Linked DNA regions of Homo sapiens. Changing the gene in region 1 together with any one later gene gives a genetic interaction. Each region holds a gene or a part of one and is shown on either strand. Other genes may lie near its edges.

Evidence for each region.
Region 2: of SMAD3 (region 1) and STRAP, changing one suppresses a phenotype caused by changing the other (phenotypic suppression), as found in Homo sapiens cells (one study listed by BioGRID).
Region 3: of SMAD3 (region 1) and HIF1A, changing one enhances a phenotype caused by changing the other (phenotypic enhancement), as found in Homo sapiens cells (one study listed by BioGRID).

The regions. Positions count from the first base shown.
Region 1 is NC_000015.10:67,059,954-67,068,601, reverse strand, and holds the start of SMAD3 (mothers against decapentaplegic homolog 3), read right to left. Parts: upstream 3,001-8,648; 5' UTR 2,448-3,000; coding exon 2,242-2,447; intron 1-2,241. UniProt on the Homo sapiens protein: Receptor-regulated SMAD (R-SMAD) that is an intracellular signal transducer and transcriptional modulator activated by TGF-beta (transforming growth factor) and activin type 1 receptor kinases.
Region 2 is NC_000012.12:15,898,312-15,904,537, reverse strand, and holds the end of STRAP (serine-threonine kinase receptor-associated protein), read right to left. Parts: intron 4,635-6,226; coding exon 4,485-4,634; intron 3,592-4,484; coding exon 3,526-3,591; intron 1,622-3,525; coding exon 1,560-1,621; 3' UTR 1,060-1,559; downstream 1-1,059. UniProt on the Homo sapiens protein: The SMN complex catalyzes the assembly of small nuclear ribonucleoproteins (snRNPs), the building blocks of the spliceosome, and thereby plays an important role in the splicing of cellular pre-mRNAs.
Region 3 is NC_000014.9:61,732,626-61,741,259, reverse strand, and holds part of HIF1A (hypoxia-inducible factor 1-alpha), read right to left. Parts: intron 7,123-8,634; coding exon 6,975-7,122; intron 4,372-6,974; coding exon 4,151-4,371; intron 3,174-4,150; coding exon 2,887-3,173; intron 756-2,886; coding exon 633-755; intron 506-632; coding exon 72-505; intron 1-71.

The DNA.
Region 1 (8,648 bases):
AAGATGCCTCAGTCCTAACAAAGTCACGAGAAGGCCACAGGGCAGGTTGGCTTGAACTCTCAGAATCATCCAAAGCGTTCACACGTCTTAGGCTTCCAAAGTCTCAGCAGGACTTTGGAAGAGGAAAAGGCAGGCCAAAGGTATGGCCCCACAGAGGACAAACTCCTACCAAGGCAAGGGAAAGCAAGGCCTCTCTGCCAAGCTATCACCAGCCCAAAGATTAAAGAAGCAACCGCACATACAAAGATCCACAGGGCCCTCCCCAAGCTAACACAGCTTTAGCATTCAGCAAAGAATGTATTCAGGATCTTCAAAGTATAAAGCAGCATGGGGCAGCAGAAAGAGCACATTCAGGCAGAACCCCATGTCTATGACTCAAGCCTTTTCACCTCTCTCTTTTAAGGTTTCCTCTGCTTTAAAAATGTGATAATCTTAAGCCTAACAACCTTATCTACTTTCCATGGCTGGTTGCTTGCTTGCTTTCTGTCTTTTTTTGAGGACCTCAGAAAACCATGTGAAAGTGCTTTGTAAACTGTGAAACACTTTTCACAGCTGCCTGTTTTACAATTGATACCACTTTTTTTCTTCTGTTTCAATACATAAAGCACTTGTCTTCAATGCACCCAGGCAGATAAGGAGAAGGTAGGTTTGGCAGACCCCTCCCCAGAAAGAGAAGTAGCATACTCACCCACTCTACCCTAGCCACCCCCACGGAAGGAATACAGAAGAATTAACAACCAGAGCTGGAACCAAATCCCAGGTCTCTCTGACCATCACATCACACCACCTCCTCTGAAGTCAATTCTGGCTCCCGATCACACGCCCAGAGACTTCCCCAGACAGCACACCGCCTTCCCTCCCCCTTTATTGACTGGATCCACCCAGTTAAAAAAAATTTAAGTCCGCACTCCCACCATATGTGGCATTTATTTCCAGGGGAGGCCTGCCCTCGGTTCCCGTGGACAGATGTTGCTTTGTGCCTGCCTGACTCGCCTGGCAGCCCCTGTACAACTGCCCCAAGCAGGTGGCCAAGGATGGAGTCCACCCTGGCCCAGGAGCAGGGATGACAATCCCTTTGCGGCTGACAGTCCCTGGTGCTTTCTACTCATTCCTCGGCAGCCTGGGACCCCCAAAAGAGCCAGCCCCCAACACACACGCTCTCTCCCTTGGTTCAGCATCAAAGGAGGCTGAGAGGTAGAGACAGGAAGCCAAGGTACCCGCACCCCCAGTTCCCAGCCAGGCACATCTAAGCTAAGGAAGGCCCTGGGGGAGTGAAGTCACTGACCCCTTCTATCAGCCATCTGTGGGCTCCCGCCCGACCTAGCTAGCGCGCAACGGGAAGGATAAAGGAGATCCAGACAGATGGCAGCGCGCTTTGGGAAGGAAGGCTCTACAGGAATGCGAGGGCCGATGCGAGGCCCACTTTGGGGTGTGTTTTGTTATCTGCCCGGCTGCAGCCTGCCCCTCTCCCTCGTTCTGCACGGTTTCAAAATCTCTTGGACCAAAAGAAGGGCAAAAGAGTCGGGATGGGGGGGTGGGAGGTGGGAGAAGACCCTATTTTCCGCCACTTGTCTCTCCCATTTGGAAGTCAGAGCATTGCACTGCAACCAAAGTGCGTGCATGCTCAGGGGGCGGGAGACTGGCACAACCGAGTCTAAAAATACTCGATAAAAATGCTAATCCCGAAGGCAAAGAAAGAACGAAGAAGGAATCTGTCAATCACTAGGCTCCCGCTCCTCACCCACAGCCCCAGCTGTACGGACCGCATTCCTGTAGAGGAAAGTGGGGAGACCCGACTGAAGAAAAGAAACGCAAAGACACCACCACCTCCACGAGCGCGGGCCGCGGGGGCGGGAGGCGGCGGCGGAGGAGGGGCTCCGGCCCGCGGAGCCGAACAAAGCGGGCCTCAACTTCCAGCCCCAGCTCCCCGGAGTGGGGGCGGCCGAGTCCCGCAGCAACCCGCTCTCCCCTCCCGGAGGTGGAAAGGGAATGTGAGGTGTGGAAGCCAGAGTGCCGCGTGGAAGCCTCGGGCTCTGATCTTTGCAAATCAGAGATGGTTTTGTTTGGGGTCCCCCCACCCCCTTCCTGCCCGCGCTCTCCCACTCTCACACACACGCACCCACACAGTCTCACTCCCTCCCTCTCTCTCCCTCTTCCCATCTCCAGCCCCACTGGGTCGGCCCCGCAGTGCCAGGGGGCTGGGCCGGCGTGACCCCGGGTCCCCCCCGGGCGGGCCCCCACCTGGGGATGGTGATGCACTTGGTGTTGACGTTCTGCGTGGTGATGGCCTTCTCCAGCTCGTCCAGCTGCCCCGTCTTCTTGAGTTTCTTGACCAGGCTCTTGACCGCCTTCTCGCACCATTTCTCCTCCTGCCCGTTCTGCTCGCCCTTCTTCCAGCCCAGCAGGCGCTTCACGATCGGGGGAGTGAAAGGCAGGATGGACGACATGGCTGGGGAGGGCGCGCGGGCGGCGAGGAGCGCCCCCGGCGGGGCTGGGCTCGACGGGACGCCGGGGGCGCAGAGGGGAGCTCGGCCGGGGCCTGCCGCGGTCGCCCAAACTTCGCCTCAACTCTCGGCGAAGTTGCCGGGGCGCCGGGCCGGGCCGCGGCGCTGCAGCCTGCGGGGCTCGGCGCGCGGCCCTGCGCCCGGAGCGGCTCCCACGGCGAAGAGAAGAGCGGCCGGGCGGGCGGACGGCAGCAGTGCAGGGTCGGGAAGGCCCCGAACGCGGGGCGGAGGCGGCGGCCGCGAGACTCCAAGTGGCAGCAGAAGTTTGGGTTTCCGCACGGGGTAGCTGTTTGGGTGCCGCCTCCGGGAAGGAAAGTCCAACCCCCGGCCAAACTTCGCTCGCCTCGCTAGCTTTGATGCGCAGATCCCTCCGCCTCTGCGGCCTCACCGCCCCGCCACCCTCCTCCTCCCGGCTCGCCGCTCGCTCGCTCGCTGGCTGGGCCGGCCCGGGGCGTGCGCCGCGCTCCCGCTCCCGCCCGCTCCCAGTCTGTGTTTCATGCAAATCCGCGTGCAGCCTCCTTTCCAAGTGCTGTCACCGCCCCCTCGCCGCCGGGGCTCCCCGCCTCCTCCCCCGCGCCCCGCCACCTCCTCCCGCGGGCGCCCTGCCCGCCCCCTGCTCCGGGGAGGGCGCCCGGCCGGCCACCACCCCGCGCCCAGCACGCCCACGTGGGCGACCCGGGCGGCGGCAGTCCTGGCTGGAGCGCGCGGGACCCTGCGCGGCCCCGACCTGAAGTCGGGCGGGCGCGGGGAGGAAGTCCTGGGAAACACGGCGAGAGGGGCCTCGGGCGGGAGGGCTGAGCGCGGCCCGTGGCGTCCGCTCTCGGAGTCCACACTCGGGCGGCTCGGTTGGAGTTGCGGGCCGGAGAGGGTTGGACTCGCAGCAAGTAAGCGTCGTCCGGACGCGAGTGCACCCTGGAGAGGACCCGAGCCCGAGAGGGGGCGCGCGGAAGGCCCGGGCCCAGGAAGTTGGGGCCCGCACTTGGCCTCGCGCTTGCTGATCCCCGTCAAGGCCCTTGGCCGGCGCCGGCGCCCCTGGGCTGTTTTTATTCTCTAGTCGGTGAGATCACACCGGCCGAGAGCCTCGGGAACGTGTGCGGAGGAGGAGGGGGTGAGAAGTGGGTCCTCAGAAGTGGAGAGCTGGGGACACCAGTGACAACCTGGACAATGGCTGGAGCCAGGGGTCTCTTGAGCCTTGTGAACCGAGTGCCCGGCAGAAAATGAGCCTCAAGGACATCTGTTGAGTTCTTGAAGGAATGAATGGAGGGGCTTTCGAATTTATCTTTGAAAGAAATTTACATAACAGGGTGTTTGTTGCTGGATCTCCTGATAGAGAAGGATCGGAAATTTGATAATTGCCAATAAATGGAAGAGAGTTTTGTTTCCAAAGCAATGAACTCACAAAAAAGTGGGGCAAGACAGGAGTTTTCGGAGAGTTTGTGTATTCAAAAAAAGCAAAACAACAACAAACCAATTGGCACATTGGGGAGCTCCGCGGCTTTTCTCCCCACCAAAAGAATTCAGGGGCGTCTGCCCGCAGGGCCCTCGGCGGTTTTCAGGAGCTACTCCAGGCCCCTCGGCCTTTCTCTTGCTGCCTCCCGCAGCCGACTAGCCGGTGTCTAAGCCCTTTGTTTGTTTTTAACAGCAGGAATCTCCCACCCCCACCCCTGCTTTGTTAAAAAAAAAAAGTTATCTGGAACCCTCAAGTGGGTGGGGAGTTACAAAGCCCTGTGAGGTGTGGCGGAATCCACAGTCAGCCCAGAAGCGGCAGGGGCCCTTGCCTTGCTCCGGAGAACCGCCTCCCACAAGCCAATCCGCAGCTGCTGCTGCAGAAGTGCGCTGTGCTCCTCACCCTCCTCTCTTCCTAAATACCCGCCTGAAAAGGAGAATACGTGAAAGCCAACTGAGGCTTGACAACCTGGCTTCCGTTCCTTGCTGGTCCTCCTGTTAACGCGCTGCCGCTGTGGTCTTAGGTTTCACTCTCCTCTTCCCGTCCGTCAAGAGAGACAAGGATGACACAATCCACATTTATTGATTGCTTTCTTCATTCCGGGTAGTCCGCCTGCTGCCCTTTGATTCAGTCTTAACAGTGGTTGGTGAGGTAGATGTTCCTGTGCCTCACGTTTACGGAGGCACAGAGAGATTACATTACTTACTCAGGGTTCCAAGTGGCAGAGCTGGAATTTGAACCCAATACTTTGTTGAAGCCTCAGTCTCCGATCTTGAGACTGCACCCAGCTGCCTGGGTCACGGAAGGCAAAGATGACATCATTGATCGAGCTCTTTGCAAAACAGTTCTCTACACGGGCACACTGTTGTAACACTGCAAGGATTATTTGCTCACCTGTAAAATGGGGCTAGAGGTAGCTTCCCTCGCGATCTCCTAGGGTGGCTGTGGGAAGCTCATGTGAAAAGGTTTGCATTGCTAATGCCATGAAAAGTGGTGGAGGGAGGTCAAATAAGTTTAACACACATTGACGGAGCAGCTCTGAGTTGCAGCCCTCCTATTCAGTTCCTGAACTTCCAAAATAAAAGACTAAGGTTTTCAAGGCGTTCACAGCCTAGAGAAGCATCAAAGGGTGGGGATGAGGATGATGTGACTGAGTGGGCAAAGATGGGCAGGGGCCTTGCAGTCATCATCGTCCAGTAAAGTGTTAATCTTAACCTGAACAAGTCCAACCATTGAGAGGTAGCCAAAGAAAGTAAGAGGGGCTCAGGATCCATCAGTGACTGGCCTGGCTTCCAATCCCGGCTCTTTCTCTTCTTCCCCTTGGGCAGCGTCCGTTCTCTCCGCTGTAAGAATGGAGCAAGCGGTTCTCACTGTGCAGAGTGGTGGATCCAGAAAGAGCATTGTAACTGTCCTCCTGTAGTTCAAGTCCTTTATGTTACAGAGAGAGCAATGTCTGCTGAAGGAGAGTGATTTGCACTGTAGAGGAAGAGCGTCAGAGAGATTTGAGGATTACATGTAGTAGAAGGACCTGACAGGTACTTCACCCTGTAAAATCATGGTATGGGAAGGGGCCCTCATTCAGCCCTCTCATTTTCCTGAGGGGAGGAAATAACTAGGCAGCCAGCTAGTTAGTGTGGCAGAACCATGCTTCCCTGCTGGCATCCGTGTGACAAGAACAGCTGTGCATGCAGAAAAATAGTGCTGGACCCACCTACAAGTCTAATAAGTGCCATTTCTGGGCTAGTTCTTTCTCCTCAGGCCTGTTTCTCCAAGAGAAGTCCCTCCACTGGGGGACTAAGTCCAGTTTCAGAAAGCTCTGAGGAGGGCTGAGGAACTGATTCTTCCAGTGCTGAGAAGACCCTGCATGTTCTCTTGATCTTGACTTTGGGCAGTGAATGGGTGGGCTGCTCTGGATGGGTACAACTCTGTTCTGGCACCTGGTCTTTTGGGGCCCAGCCATACCTGCTTTTGCAGAGGTTGTCCTTGGGAGGGAAACATTAGCCCAGTTAATTTTTCACCATGGTAAGTGCAAAGTTCAGGAGAGGTGGGATGGAAGTGGAGACAGCAACTGTTTCCCTGGGAATAGTCCATCCTATGAACAGTTCACCTCGTGAATAGACACATCAGAGGGTTTTCGTGTATTTGGAGTGGCTCCCAGGTAGGCCAGCCACTCCAAATACACGAAAGAAACAAACACCTGACTTCAATTCTGATTATTTTCCCATTAGCTTAAGGGTATTTAATCAACAAGTAGTGAATCTAGAAAAAGCATTAAAATCATCTTCATCTTACACAGACAGAAAGTGATGTCTGTAAGGGAAGGTGATTTGCACTGTGAAGATAAGTAGCCAAATCAGGACTAGAACTTTTATCAGAGTGCCCTCACCTAAGAGAGAGCCTCTGTCTACAGTCAGATCTCTACCTATAGCTCTTTGTAACACCTTACACGTGTGAGCTCTTCTGTGGCACCAGAATGACCTGGGTTAAACTTCTACCTCTTCCACTTCCGGCTGTGTGACTCTGGGCACGTTCCTTAACTCTGTGTGTGTCAGTTTTCTCATCCATAAAATGTGATAATTACAACACCTTCTTAGGATTGCTGTATGGAATCAGATTAAATCATATAGAAAGCTTGGTACAAGCACATAGTAGGTTCTCAATATACATGGATGTGATTCATGCATACTATAAAGTGCTATGCAAAAGTGAGAAGCAATGAATTCCATGTACATAAAACAAATGTATAGATTTTAAACACAGTTCCAACAGAAAATAGTAAGACACAGAGGGAAAGGAATAGCATAATGCTACTATGTAAAACAAATTACATATACACAAAATAATTATATACATTTTGAAAGAAGTTATACAAATAAAAAGATATACATTGAACCACTTCACATCCATTAGGATGGCTATTATCTTTTTTTCTTTGTTTTTGAGATGGAGTTTCGCTCTTGTTGCCCAGGCTGGAGTGCAATGGTGCCATCTTGGCTCACTGCAACCTCCGCCTCCCGGGTTCAAGCAATTCTCCTGCCTCAACCGCCTGAGTAGCTGAGATTACAGGCATGTGCCACCCACGCCTGGCTAATTTTGTATTTTTAGTAGAGACGGGATTTATCCATGTTGGTCAGGCTGGTCTCAAACTCCTGATCTCAGCTGATTCCTCCCACCTTGGCATCCCAAAGTGCTGGGATTACAGGCGTGAGCCACCGCGCCTGGCCAGCTATTCGCTTTTAAAAAACAGAAAATAACATGTTGGAAAGGATGTGAAGAAATTAGAATCCTTGCACATTGCTGGTGAAGATGTGAAGTAGTGCTGCCTCTGAGGAAAATGCTGTGGTGTATGTATGGCAGTTCCTCAAAAAACTGAGCAGAATTACCATATGATCCGGTCATTCTGTTTCTGGGGATATACCCAAAAGAATTGAAAGCAGGGACTACGAGTATTTCCACACCCATGTCCGTAGCAGCCTTATTCACAACAGTCAAAAGGTAGAAGTAACTCAAGTGTCCATCAATGGATGGGTGGAAAAACAAGATGTATTGTAGTCACACAATGGAATTTTTAAATTTTATTTATTTATTTATTTAGAGACAGAGTTTCGCTCTTATTGCCCTGGCTGGAGTGCAGTGGCGCGATCTTGGCTCACTGCAACCTCCACCTCCCAGGTTCAAGTGATTCTCCTGCCTCATCCTCCCTCGTAGCTGGGATTACAGGTATGTGCCACCACACCCAGCTAATTTTGTATTTTTAGTAGAGATGGGGTTTCACCATGTTGGCCAGGGTGGTCTTGAACTCCTGACCTCAGGTGATCTGCCCGCCTCGGCCTCCCAAAGTGCTGGGATTACAGGCATGAGCCGCTGTTCCTGGCCCATACAATGGAATATTATTTAGCTTTAAAAGGAAGGAAATGCTGACACATGATACATTGTGGATGAACCTTGAGAATATTATGCTAAGTGAAATAAACCAGCCACAGAGGAACAAAAATTGTGTGATTCCACTTACAGAAGTACCTAGCATAGTTAAATTCTTAGAGACAGGAAGGAGATAGTGGTTGCCAAGGGCCAAAGGGAGAGGGAATGGAGAATTATTGTTTACTGGATATGGAGTTTCAGGTGAAGAAGATGAAAAAACTCTGGAGATGGATGGTGGAGTTGGTTGTACAACAATGTGAATGCAGTCAGTGCCATGGAACTGTACACTTAAAATGGTTAAAATAGTCAATTTTGTTATGTACATTTTACCATAATAAAAGAGTAGGAATAGGCCAGGTGCGGTAGCTCATGCCTGTAATCCTAGCACTTTGGGAGGCCAAGGCGGGTAGATCACCTGAGGTCAGAAGTTCGAAACCATCCTGGCCAACATGGTGAAACCTTGTCTCTACTAAAAATACAAAAATTAGCCAGGCACGATGGCAGGAGCCTGTAATACCAGCTACTTGGGAGTCTGAGGCAGGAGGGTCACTTGAACCCAGGAGGCAGAGGTTGCAGTGAGCAGAGATCACGCCGCTGCACTCCAACCTGGTGACAGAGCGAGACTCCATCTCTAAATAAATAAATAAAGTGGGAATAAAATGGTAAATATTGAACAGAGTAGAATAGATGTTTGAGTGTGGGTGTATGGGAGAATAGAGGATAAGGCTAAAGAGGGAAAATAAATAAGTGCATTCAGGTGTGTATGACTGATGTGT
Region 2 (6,226 bases), on another chromosome or scaffold:
AAGGACTGTACCTGTACAGGGTCATTAGACTTTTATGAAACCTAAGGAGAAATTCCCTTGGTTCATAAATAACAAGCAACTTCATGATTCCAATCTGATGCGTACAGAACTTTATTGAGGGTAAATCAGACTCTGATTAGAGTCTGAGCAACTGCTGGTACAATGACAACACTGCTGCAATCCAGAGGTTCAGGCATGTAACAAGCTGACACAAAAATACTACCACTCTATGAAAGCCAATATGGATCACCAGTTGGCTCCCCTGTATTTCTCTCGGCCCTCACAGGTTGTCACAGCCTACAGTGCTTTCTTCTGGTTATCACAAATCCTCAAAAATTAATCTTATTCTTTGGTTGACTCATATTGCTTTTAAGAAAAGTTATCAAGGGTCACTCACAGGACTGATCAGGAGAAAAAGGAAGTTGCAGAGATGTTATTTATTCATCTGAAGTATTTCCAAATTACTCATTTAATATGCCCTCTTTGTTTTAAAAAATAAATTACAAGTCTAAACTCAGCTGATCCAATTTATTAGAAGGTTTTAGAAGGGCTTTCTGAATGCCACCCAAATTTAAAGAATGAGGTAAAATTCCATACTTCTTAAACCACTGCAGGACTATAGTAATCCCATTTTTATAAAATCCATTCTATCTATCTGTATATACATACAGAGATGCCCTAACATGCATTCATGGTCATTTGATTTTAATAGTTTTTTGAGGAGTGGTAGGATTTTAAGTGATCTTTCAGCTTACTGCTAAATTTCAGTTGATTTTTTTTTTCTTATAACTAGCATGTATTATTTAAATAATTGTTTAAAAAGGCATGTCAAGCACTTCTATCCAATCTGGGAATAGAGAAGGTAAATGAAACACTAGTAAAGGACATAAGAATTTCAAAAATTCAGGACAAGTAACTGAATCTCAATATTATAAAATAATGTTTACTACAGATTAATTGGCTTACCTTTTGCTATGGTTATGATACAGAAAAACCTTCTGGCTATTTCCACTTATAAAACTCACATTAGTAGTTTTTCCCCAAAAAAACCAAACATTGTTTTGTTTTAGAGGCATTTTATTTAGACAACTAAAAACAATTAGATGTTCAGAGGCAGTGTACAATGAACGAGAAATCAAACCAGTTACTTTATCATGTATTCCCTCTTCTTTACAACTGAAGCAAAAAAAGAAAAGGCATTCTGCTTTAAGATCAGAAAAAATCAGCCAATATAGTTTTCTTCTCCATATTAACATAAACAGCTACAAGAACCCTAATTGTAATAATAGAAATTGGATGTTGGCTTGTATATATTCATTAAAAAGATAACAGGCCACTGTACTATAAGAGGATAACTCCACCTCCCTTCATCTGACACTTGAGTTTTCACTTACAGGTAACACCAAGTTAGTTAGTTGTTCCAGCACTGGAGCTAATTCATTTTCCTCATTATTTACTGCTGTTTCTGCCTTAAGCAGACAGTAACTCTGGAAGGCTGATGCTTTTCTCTGCTTGCTTGTTTTAGTCAGTTGTATACTAACTGCACATATGATTGACGCTCAGGCCTTAACATCAGGAGCTGAAGGAAAGATGCAATCTGAATTCTCTGAAGCAATTTCTTCTATAAGTAAAAAAAAAAAAAAAAAAAAAAAGTCACATTAGTCAACTTAATGAAAGAAAGAAGCAAATCTACATTTCTGTGTAATGAAGGAATGAAAAAGTGTTTGTAAAGCATACTGTGGTAAGGGAAAGAAGAGAGCAACTGCACATGCCACTAACAACTAGACTCATGTCATTGAAAAGGCAAAGAAGAAAGAGTTCATGTGTTTTATCCACTAGATTCTCTTACACCATAACTCAACCTCCAAGGGTCCCTTTCTGGCCTAAATTTTCAAAGACTCCAGCTATATAACAAACCCGGAATTAAAGTCATGTCTTCGAAGGATCTGGCCCTCTCTTTTAGTGATTCAAATCCTAATATTTAGTGCTATTTAAAGCAAAACATTAACCATCAACATTGTTTTAGCAAGAAGGTGCTTAACAATAAAAAATTTAAGGAAAACTCTATTGGGTAAATGGTAAACACCTTCCCAACCTCCCCCAAAATCATCATACCCAGTTTCTCATGGCAGCAATCTGCATATTTCTTCCTCATGATACCCCCACTCATCAATCTCACAATTCTAACAAGTCTAACAAAAGACTCTCAACTCCATCTACCTTTTTCTGTTCTCATTGCAATACCCTTATTAAAAACTACATGATAGGCCGGGTGCAGTGGCTCACGCCTGTAATCCCAGCACTTTGGGAGGCCGAGGTGGGCAGATCATGAGGTCAGGAGTTCAAGACCAGCCTGATCAACATGGTGAAACCCCATCTCTACTAAAAATACAAAAATTAGCCAGGCGTGGTGGTGCACCTGTAATCCCAACTACCCAGGAGGCTTACGCAGGAGAATTGCTTGAAACCAGAGGCGGAGGCTGCAGTGAGTCGAGATCATGCCACTGCACTCCAGCCTGGGCAACAGAGCAAGACTCCATCTCAAAACAAAACAAAACCTACATGATCACTCATCTAGACTACAATGCCCCCTAACTGGTTTATGTTCACTCTTGTTCCCAGTCCAATTCTTTGTACGTGCAACAGCCAAGGCAACCTTTTTTTTTTTTTTTTTTTTGAGACAGAGTCTCTCTCTGACACCCAAGCTGGAGTGCAGTGGCGCAATCTCGGCTCGCTGCAACCTCTACCTCCTGGGTTCAAGCTACTCTCCTGCTTCAGCCTCCTAAATAGCTGGGATTACAGGTATCTGCCACCATGACCGGCTAATTTTTGTATTTTTAGTAGAGACAGGGTTTCACCATGTTGGCCAGGTTGGTCTTGAACTACCAAGGCAATCTTTTAAAGTCCTCTTCTTAAAATTCAAAGGTTTCTCATTGCTCTTAGTATAAAACTCTCCAAGTCCTAATACAGCAAATGAGGCCCTCAGATGATCTAGCTTCTCCAGCTTCACTTTGCCTTTGCTCTTTAACCTGGAGGCATGGAGAAGTTCTTTTAGTTCCTCATATGCTATGCTCCTTTTTGGTTCTGAACTTTTAGTTAACATAGTTTTCCTGCTATGAACTTTTCCATCCTGTCCCTACCAACACCCCCTCTCATGACCTCACCTAAATCATTTCTGCTCATCCTTAGTTCCCAGTTTAAATGTCACTTCTCTAGGAAGCTTTTTTTAATCCCCCTTACAATAATTTGTGTTTTGGCATGTCTCCTAAGTTAGACTCTAGCTCTGAAAGAGTAACCACATCGGTTGTGTCCATACTACATCTCTGTGCCTATTACTACTATGCAGTAGGTATTTAAATATTTAGCTTATAAATATGTATATATACATGCATAAATATTTAAAGTTTCCATTATTTAAATATGTTCATATTTAATAAATTTCTTCTGCCAATGAGTAAAACTTCTGTTACAGTTCAATTTTAAATCCCCCAAGACTCTTACAAAAGTCAATTCCATAGCATTTACCTAGCTCCTCTTCTGTTGTCTCTGGAAAACCAATCTTTGGCTTTGCCAGCTCACCACTATCTTCTTCTGTAAAAAGAAAAGCAATGACGATTATATGACTTACACTATTAAAGTAATTTCCAGTGTTCAATAAGCAAGAAGAGCAACATAAGACTATTCCAGGAAAATGGCTACAAAATATAATAAAAACAACTCCTTTTTAAATAACTGTGATTCTAAAAATAGTATGTCTTTCTTTAAAATTACTTTTAGGTTCATACTGCAACTACTTAGGGATTAGTAACTAGGTATTTTTTATTAAGAACATGTCTATCTTTATTGGTGTGGATCAGTGAGTAATACTATTCAGAGATTAGATACATTTACTTGTAAATTCTTTATATTGCCTTCCAGCAAATTTTGAATTAGATCTATTCCAGCCACAAAATGTGCTAGTATAAAAATTTAGGAACAGACTAGATTGTACAACAAATTTTTCTTTTTTTTTTTTTTGAGACTGAGTCACTCTTGCCCAGGCTGGAGTGCAGTGGCGTGATCTCAGCTCAATGCATGGCTCCTGGGTTCATGCAATTCTCGTGCCTCAGCCTCCTGAGTAGCTGGGATTACAGGCATGTACCACCACACCTGGCTAATTTTTGTATTTTTAGTAGAGATGGGGTTTCACCATGTTGGCCAGGCTGGTCTCGAACTCCTGACCCTGTGATCCGCCCGCCTCAGCCTCCCAAAGTGCTGGGATTACAGGCGTGAGCCACCGTGCCCAGCCATACCAAAAAAAATTTAAACAAAGGAACATGACCCTTTCTCTGGCCAATTTATAATCCTGGGCTTCTCGCTGCTTAAACCATAATATATAATTTAAAATTTATAGAAAACAGGAACCCTGAAATAAAATTAATGATTAAAAATGACATAAAATCATGCATTTTAAAAATTTTATTATTCTGAATAAAAATTCTTACCAGGAAGCACACATTTCCAAAGGCCATACGTTTTTCCTACCACAGTTTGCCATAGTCTCAATGTTCCATCTTCTGAACCACTGGCATAGAGTTCTCCATCAGGACTAAATCTCACACAGTGAATAGGACCAAAGTGTCCCTTGTAGGATTCTGAAAAAGAAGAGGGCTATTAGATAATTTTAACTATTAGGTTAAATATTGATATGCTAAAAAAAAAAAATACTGTCTGTGTTACTGGGGAGATGGAAAATTCTTAAGGCAAACATTAAAACCTGTACTTAATTAATTTCTCATCACAAAAGTGGTATATCATTGACCCTTTCTCTGTAAGATTATTCCTTTCCAAATCTAGCACACATTCTAGTTTCAAACTGTCCCTCTAAAAAAAGCAAATGAGGCTTCATGTCTCATTAAGGATGGAGAAAAAGAGGTAAATGAAAACCCCATTAATTCTATAGAAAGTAGATTTAAAGTCTTACCAGTTCAACCTCCAATTTCCATATCCTAAAACTCACTGCCTATTTCTCAGGGAATCAATTTTTATTATGACTATAGAGAGCCACCAGGTGGAGCTCTTTTACACACTTTGCCTCTTAATTTCCTACAGTCCACTAATTATTCTGTCACACAGAAAGGTGAGATATAGATCAACAATGATCCATAAATATTTTAATCCATGGAACCTAATGAGAAAATGTATAGATTAGGAGCACTGTTATATTCAAGTAGTACCTTTAAGTATGAACCTTTCTCATTTACTTTCTAATGCCTCATCACCTTATTAGTTCTCAAAGCCCTTTACTAGACCAATGTTCCTATTCTGTCTCCCATCTGTGTCCCACCAGAGAATAGAAAAGTTGTAAGAGTACAAAGAACACAAGGTTTTGGAAAGAGAAAGGCTAGGCAGATCTGGTATTCACTGTGACTTCAGATCTTGGGCAAATAATTCAGTTCTCTCAATCTTGAAAAAGAATAAAATATGAAACCAAAAACATTCTAAAACTTTGAAAACTAGCATTAAATAAAAGTAACAGAAAAGAATATCTTATTTATAAATCACTTGTATTCAAGTAATAAAAACTGAACCATAAGCAATTAAAATAGATTCTACATGGTCCATCACCAAGGTTCCATTTGTGCAACCCAGATGCATCAATGTTCCCCAAGAAACAAAACGTAAAATTGTCTTTTGTTCTTTGGGTGTAATCTAGCAAGCTTCGTTCTTTGGTAAAGCAGGGCAGCTAGAAACAGACAAGAACAAGAAGAGACAGCTTATAGATAAAAATATATATTTATAAAAACTAAACATATTTTTGACCTAAAAGCAAAAACTATTTGGAAAGGCTAAAAGTAGATACTGAGAACCACATGTAACTATGTGAAATACCTGGTCCATCAGATAAATATACATTAACTTCAAATTAATCCCCATGCCTTTCCCTTTCCCTTACTAAGGACTGTTATCATGAAAATGAAAGCAAAACTCAAACTCCAAAACAGAATAAATAAAAAGCTGATAAAAATAACTATCCAATTCAGATTCCTAAAGGTATCCCTGTAATATGCTATACTGATTTTTCCCCCACACACTGTTCTTTACGGAGTCTTAGGAATTCCTAAGTTGGCAAAAAGGAAGACGGGCCAAGTAGATGGGGTTATACACCCACAACATAGTTCAGAAAGAACGGATCTCCTTGCATGTGTTTAGCATATGACTTTGACATAAGATTCCCCCCTCCCTC
Region 3 (8,634 bases), on another chromosome or scaffold:
TCATGTACTATCACATACATTTATCTCAAAAATAATAAAAGAACTATAACTTGAATGTTACATATAAATACCTTTGACTCAAAGCGACAGATAACACGTTAGGGCTTCTTGGATGAGATTTTTCTGTCTGTTCTATGACTCCTTTTCCTGCTCTGTTTGGTGAGGCTGTCCGACTTTGAGTATCTCTATATGGTGATGATGTGGCACTAGTAGTTTCTTTATGTATGTGGGTAGGAGATGGAGATGCAATCAATATTTTAATGTCTTCCATACGGTCTTTTGTCACTGTTTTTAATTCATCAGTGGTGGCAGTGGTAGTGGTGGCATTAGCAGTAGGTTCTTGTATTTGAGTCTGCTGGAATACTGTAACTGTGCTTTGAGGACTTGCGCTTTCAGGGCTTGCGGAACTGCTTTCTAATGGTGACAACTGATCGAAGGAACGTAACTGGAAGTCATCATCCATTGGGATATAGGGAGCTAACATCTCCAAGTCTAAATCTGTGTCCTTTAAAACAGCAAATACATGAGTTTTTACAATGGCCACACCTTATAAATAAAAAACAAGTGAAACTCAAAGTCACTTCAGACTAAAAATTAATGAAATTTAATATAAAACAAATAAGTTCATATACCTGAGTAGAAAATGGGTTCTTTGCTTCTGTGTCTTCAGCAAAAAGTTTTTCTACCAATTCCAACTTGAATTCATTGACCATATCACTATCCACATAAAAACAATATTCACTGGGACTATTAGGCTGTAAAAAGAAATATGTTTACTATTTCCTGAAGAAGCTTCCATATACTTTGCTAGTTGTCAGAATTTTCAAACTAGATCTCAGAAAAACCAGAAAACACACAACCAAGTCCATCGTGTTTATCAAATTTTATTTAACTAGGCCGGGCTCAGTGGCTCACGCCTGTAATCCCAGCACTTTGGGAAGCCAAGGTGGAGGGATAATGAGGTCAAGAGATCGAGACCATCCTGGCCAACATGGTGAAACCTCGTCTCTACTAAAAATACAAAAATTAGCTAGGCATGGTGGCAAACGCCTGTAATCCCAGCTACTCAGGAGGCTGAGGCAGGAGAATCACTTGAACCTGGGAGGCAGAGGTTGCAGTGAGCCAAGATCATGCCACTGCACTCCAGCCTGGCGACAGAGTGAGACTCCATGTCAAAAAAAAAAAAAAAAAAAAAAATTTGTGAAAATAGTGACATTTTGAAGCTTATACTGGTAACTAATTTTGCCAATATATATATTTCTGACTATGTAATATAACATCATTTACAAAATTGAGATGAAAAGAAACACCTTATTCTAAAGAATAAAACCTATTTGGTAATTCACATCCCACAATGGTACCTAATTGACCAATTAACTAGATGCTACATTCACTGGAATTTACCTTTGAACTGAGAAGGCACACTCCTGTGGTGACTGAGCTACCTAAAAATCTCACTGTTACTGTCGGGGGTGGGAGTAGAAACCTAAGTTATTTTACCTGCATATACCTGAACGAATGTACATTATTACTATTTTAAGAGTTCTGGGCAAGAAGTTTAACAAAAAACTATAGCTGTGTATTCTAAACAAGAAATTTTGCTTTCCTCATTCTAACGTTTTTGTTAGATTTACTTTTGTTAGATAAAAACCAAGATGAATCAAACATTTTTTTTTCTGGGTAAATTAAGCAACCAGAGCATAGGATATATATTCATTCAACACAAGGCTGTGAGATGTCAAATCCCCTACTCTTAGCTTGTCAGTTTTATTCAACAAATACCTAATGTAGAATTATTTACCACTTATTAAAGCTTATTTATGCCTCATTTATCAAGTTATAATGTTCAGATCTAAGTTGCCCTACTCCTGAGCATATTTTTAGATGTAGGAAGCCCTAAAATGGAATCATTCTAGATTTAGAAATAGAGCCCTGTGTGATATCTCTAAGTCTTGGCCAGCCTAGCCTTTAAAGATTATTTTTGTGTTCATAGGACAATTAATATCAAGACAGATCCAGAATAAAAAAGACCAGTTACTAAGTATTTATTTTATGTAACACTTGTTATTTTCATATTATACTTACCCAAAATTTCAAAATAGTGATGGAAATTAGACTAAATTGGGCAAAGAATTTATAAGGTCCTTTCCCATTTAAACCCTCGTAAGTCTATTGCTACCAGACAGTTCTCCAACTCAAAGGGGTAATGGGCCAGGCATGGTAGCTCACGCCTGTAATCCTAGTACTTTGGGAGGCCAAGGCAGGAGGATCGCTTGAGCCCAGGAGTTTAAAACCAGCCTGAGCAACATAGTGAGAACCCCAACTCCACACACACACACAAAAAAAGGTTAAAAAATTAGCCAGGCATGGTGATGCAGGCCTGTAGTCCCAGCTACTTGGGAGGCTGAGGTGGGAGAATCATTTGAGCCTGGGAGGTTGAGGCTGTGATTGCACCACTGCACTCCAGCCTGGGTGATAGTGAGACTCTTTCTCAAAACAAAACAAAACACAATAAAACAAACTAAAAGGGGTAACAGGTATAGGCTGTAGCTACCTTGAGCACACTTAGTACTATTCTCTTTAAATGTCCAAATTCAAGATGTTTTTGTCCTACTGATATAAATAATAGAGAAACAATGTACGTTTCACCTTTTGGTTTATATTAAGCTAGTTTCTTCCCATGTTCCTGACTATCTTTGAGCCTAAAACATGTGCTCAGGTCTAGGTTAGGCAGTAGCTCTTGCAATAATTTTAAAGTGCTAAAATTCAAACACACACACAAATGTAATTTGTGGTTCAAATAAGTGTTTGAATCAAACTTATAAATACATTCTTGAATGTTAAAATCTGAAAGTTGTCCCTTTCTGATTATATCATGACACCTACCTCAGGTGAACTTTGTCTAGTGCTTCCATCGGAAGGACTAGGTGTCTGATCCTGAATCTGGGGCATGGTAAAAGAAAGTTCCAGTGACTCTGGATTTGGTTCTAATTTTAATGCAACTTCTTGATTGAGTGCAGGGTCAGCACTACTTCGAAGTGGCTTTGGCGTTTCAGCGGTGGGTAATGGAGACATTGCCAAATTTATATTCTGTAATTTTTCGTTGGGTGAGGGGAGCATTACATCATTATATAATGGTACTTCCTCAAGTTGCTGGTCATCAGTTTCTGTGTCTGTGGGGAAAAAATATGAGTCAATCTAAAGTATAGAAGGATTTTTTTTTTTTTTTACCCAAGACAGAGTCTTGCTCTGTTGCCCAGGCTGGAGTGCAATGGCGCAATCTTGGCTCACTGCAACCTCTGCCTCCCAGGTTCAAGCAATTCCCCTGCCTCAGCCTCCCAAGTAGCTGGGATTACAGGCGCACACCACCACGCCCAGCTAACTTTTGTATTTTTGGTAGAGACGGGGTTTCACCATGGTGGCCAGGCTGGTCTCGAACTCCTAACCTCAAGTGATCCACCCGCCTCGGCCTCCCAAAGTGCTGGGATTACAGGCGTGAGCCACTGCGCCCGGCCACAAGGATTTTCACATATAAAAAATTTATGTTCTTTTTCACAAAAGGTTTGTCTAATTCATCAAACAACAAAATGTCACCAAATTTTCCTTCATCAGAAAGTTTACATACAATAGTATAGTATAACCATAAGTCTGAGTTACCTTTACAATCCACTATTGATACCGCGTCTTAATCTCTATGGCATAAAAGACAAAAGGCAATACCAACCTTTTTATACATTAAAATGTTCTCTACTTTAAAATTGCAGTTTTCATCTTCAATGCTTGATGTTATAGTATGACTACTTTTTTATCCTTTAATGCAACAATGCCTACTTCCATATAACTCTGCTAAACTGTGGAGAAAATCTGACAGCAGGATACAGAAATAGAGTAGCCAGGAAAAATTTATGTGGGAAGAAGAAATACCTTAAGGACACTTTGAAGCACAATTTCCAACAGTATAAAAAAGCAAGAATGGTAAGAAATTACGGGGGCAAAAATATTTAAGCAAATACATTTAAGAAAACTATAAACATATATTAGCTTGTAATGTCCAAATGATTACCAACAAAAACCGTAAAGTAATGTTTAGTTGAAATGGGGCTTGTAGCAACAGACACAATTTAGGGGATTAACAAAAATAACTACTCACCGTTGCTGCCAAAATCTAAAGATATGATTGTGTCTCCAGCGGCTGGGGCCAGCAAAGTTAAAGCATCAGGTTCCTTCTTAAGTTTGTCAAAGAGGCTACTTGTATCTTCTGATTCAACTTTGGTGAATAGCTGAGTCATTTTCATATCTGAAGATTCAACCGGTTTAAGGACACATTCTGTTTGTTGAAGGGAGAAAATCAAGTCGTGCTGAATAATACCACTGTCAAAACAAGAGAAATTGGTAATTCACAAATGAGCACTTGATACAGTGAGGGGAAGGGAGACTGTGAAATGGTCTCTTAAAAAATTCTGCTTTATGGACAGGAACATTTCAAGATTTCTTGAGATGCATGATCACTCATGCGTACTGTGTCACATTTAGGGTTTTAAAATGCTAATACAAAATAAAGACCCAATAAAATCCACAGTATGCAACCATAAAAAAGAATGAAATAATGTCCTTTGCAGCAACATGGATGCATCCAGAGACCATTATCCTAAGTGAGATAACCCAGGAACAGAAAACCAAATGCTGCATGTTCTCACTTGTAAGTGGGAGCTAAACACTGGGTTACTTGTGGACATAAAGATGGCATCAATAGACACTGAGGACTACTAGGGGAGAGGGGCAAGGGTTGAACAACTGTTGGGTATTATGCTCACTACCTGGGTGACAGGATCAATTGTACCCCAAACCTCAGCATCACATGATATACCCATGTAACAAACCTATGCATGTATCCCCTGAATCAAAAATAAAAGTTGAAATTAAAAAAAAAATCCCCAGTACAAGATAATTTGACTAATTTCAGTTAAGAATTTCAGATATCCAGGCTGGGCGTGGTGGCTCATGCCTGTAATCCCAGGACTTTGGGAGGCTGAGGCGGGTGGATCGCTTGAGCCTGGGAGTTCAAGAGCCTGGCCAACATGGCAAAACCCTGTCTCTACTAAAAATACAAAAAATTAGCCCGGTGTGGTGGTGCACACCTGTAGTCCCAGCTACTTGGGAGGCTGAGGCATGAGAATCACTTGAGCTCGGGAAATGGAGTGAGCCAAGATCACGCCACTGCACTCCAGCCTGGGTGACAGTGAGACTCCATCTCAAAAAAAAAAAAGAAAAAAAGAATTTCAGATATCCTTTGAGAAGAGTAGTAATGGCAAGGCAATTTGTAGTCAAGTACATGAAAGACACCAACAAATCTTCAGAATTGTTGTGCTGACACACATTATGAAATTGGCACAAAAGAACTCTTTGGCATCAATATGTGAGGCATGATCTAAGGATAGTCCTAAAGATACACAGATAAATGATTAAGATCTTTCTAAGAGAGGGGCCATATTTTCTTTGGTGGTAAGAATATAAGGTGATACCACCTACAGGATACGGCTGAAGAGGGATGATGAGCAATAGTTTATCTTCACGTTTGGCTTAAATGTAAATTATTCCTTTAATTAACGTATTAAATGTTCACTATCTGAAATGAACTGATAATGCAAAGATTAAAATAGCCAACCCTTGACCTTAAGAAATTTATAACCCATTGTGAAAGTAGATATGTAAACAATTAAAATACACTGTGATAACTGCTAAAATAGAGAAGGCTTGCTTCACTGAGAAGCTAACAAGCTGATACTTGGGATCAAGTGGCATTTGCTAGGCAGACTGGGGTGTGAGGAAGAGAAAGACATTCCAAGTGGAAGATTCTTACATAATGGTAAAGTCACAAAAGAACTCTGTGGCACTAATATTAAAACATTAAAGGATGGTGTCAGAAGTAGCAAAAATAAAAACTGCCCAAAGTCTTCCTAAGAGGAGTGACCCTAGATTTTAAAGGGAAGGCTAAATCTCTAATGCGTGAGTATGATGGTAAACAAGGATGCTGTACACCTAGGCAAGTGTTTATCTTGGAAATGATAAAAAGATCGCTAAAATTCTAAGGAAAATAAGATGATGACATATCCACACTAGAAAGCTTAGCCTGGTAGTAATGGGCAAGATGGACTAGAATGTGGTAATAATGTGGACAGGTAGACTAGATGGGGCAGGAGTCTAGTAAAATAGATCAAATGAAAAATTAAATTTTGATGTACATAATATTCACAAGCCAAAGAGCTAAGTGAAGAGTTCATGAATATACAAGAGCCATGTATTACATCATATAGCTTATTAATCTCATAGAATTTCTTTTCTTTTTTAAATTATACTTTAAGTTCTAGGGTGCATGTGCACAACGTGCAGGTTTGTTACATATGTATACATGTGCCATGTTGGTGTGCTACATCCATTAACTCATCATTCACATTAAGTATATCTCCTAATGCTATCCCTCCCCCCTCCCTAATCTCATAGAATTTCATTTAATTTTCATTATAACCTTCTGAAGGATTATCTACATAGATGAAATTCAGAAAAATGAAGAGACTTCCCCAAGGTCAGGGAGCTAATGAGTGGTAGAGCTATGATACAAATCTAGGCCAGGATTCTTCCTACAAAAAGAACACAGCTGTCTTGAGATAGTATATGCCGATATCTGTATAATTAGACCAAACCAATCAATGGATCTGGTATTTTTTTCATGGTCTTTTTAAAAATAGGAGTGAAGGTATGGGGATAGACAACTACTGACAGTGTTTAGCAGCATCACTGTGGAATAGCTGGACTGGAAACCTAGGTCAGAGTATAGAAAATAATAATTTGGTAGCGATGTAAAAGAATTAAAATTTAGTTAATATTTATTATCTTATCTTCCTATAAATGAACAGAGTATCCAAAAAGAATTACTATTTGTTCCCCAAAAATGTTTATTTCTCAAACTTACTTACCTCACAACGTAATTCACACATACAATGCACTGTGGTTGAGAATTCTTGGTGTTATATATGACAGTTGCTTGAGTTTCAACCCAGACATATCCACCTCTTTTGGCAAGCATCCTGTACTGTCCTGTGGTGACTTGTCCTTTAGTAAACACTAGGGGGGAAAAGAAAAAGAATCATGCAGAGAAAATATTTTAACTTTGAATTTTCAATTAAATGAACAGATGCTGAATGTTCATCATTGTTTTGGAAAACAAATGTTTATTTAGTGGAATCAGTTGTAACTGCTTACATTCTGACAGTGCGTCCCAGAATAGCTGAAAATGTACCCATTTCCTTTTTCAAACCCCCTAAATAAAACTCCTTTGCTGCCAGTGAGCTAAGTGAAGAGTTCATGAATATACAATCTTCAGTAACTAAAATTCCTTTAATGACTTAGGTTGGTGTCAGATTAGAGAATAATCAATAGCCTTTTTCAAGAAAATGGTGCCACAATAACTTCCTTAAATTCTGACTATGGTTTCCAGAGAACCAAAGATGCTTTAAAAAGCTATATGTAGCATATTTAAATATAAATTGATACCACATTGTAAGTCTTTTGGCAATTTAAATTAAATACTGATTTGGGAGAAAGTACTAAATAAATGCTAATGATGGTATTATTTTGAGGATTGGGGTGTCCTGACTGCAGACTTGGATTTACTCTTGAGTTCAAGGCTGATCAGTCACACAAACTCAGTGATATTCAGGTATCCTCAAGCACAGTGGGAAGTCATGCATAGGTACAGATTAAACAGGTGAGATAGTCCAAAGTTTAACTTATCTTGGGGATCTTAACATTCATTTGAGTAAAATTCAGAATCAAATCTTATGTCAAAGGTACTTGTTTTGGGTGACTATAGTAAAAAATAATTTAATTGTACATTTTAAAGAAACTAAAAGAGGCCGGGTGCCAAGGCAGGTGGATAACCTGAGGTCAGGAGTTCGAGACCAGCCTGGCCAACATGGCAAAACCCTGTCTATACTAAAAATACAAAAATTAGCCAGGCATGGTGGTACATGCTTATAATCCCAGCTACTTGGGAGGATGAGGCAGGAGAATCTCTTGAACCCGGTAGGCGGGGGTTGCAGTGAGCTGAGATTGCTCCACTGCACTCCAGCCTGGGCGAGAGTGAGATCCTGTCTCAAAAGAAAAAAATAAAATAAAATAAAATAAAAATAACCAAAAGAGTATAACTGGATTGTTTGTCACACAAGATAATGCTTGAGGTGATAGGTACTCCATTTATCCTTATGCACTGCATGCCTATATCAAAATATTTCATGAACCCATAAATATAAATACCTAACTATGCACTTATAAGCATTTTTTAAAATGGTACTTATTACCAAAGGTGATGTTCACCACCTTCACATTCATTGATTGTACAAATACTTTCTGAGTGCCTTTTACATACCAACCACTGTTCTGAGTATTTATGTGAATTCTGAAAATTATGCTATTCAATACTCTATAATATTTGGATTTTCAAAAGTCTTTGTATTTAAAATGCCAGGAAGTTTTTTCTATGATTAAATGATTCTATTTTTACTGATATTTGTTGCAACACATACAAAACACAAAATGGTCAAGATCTCTACTGAATAGGCCTGTTAACACATTTAG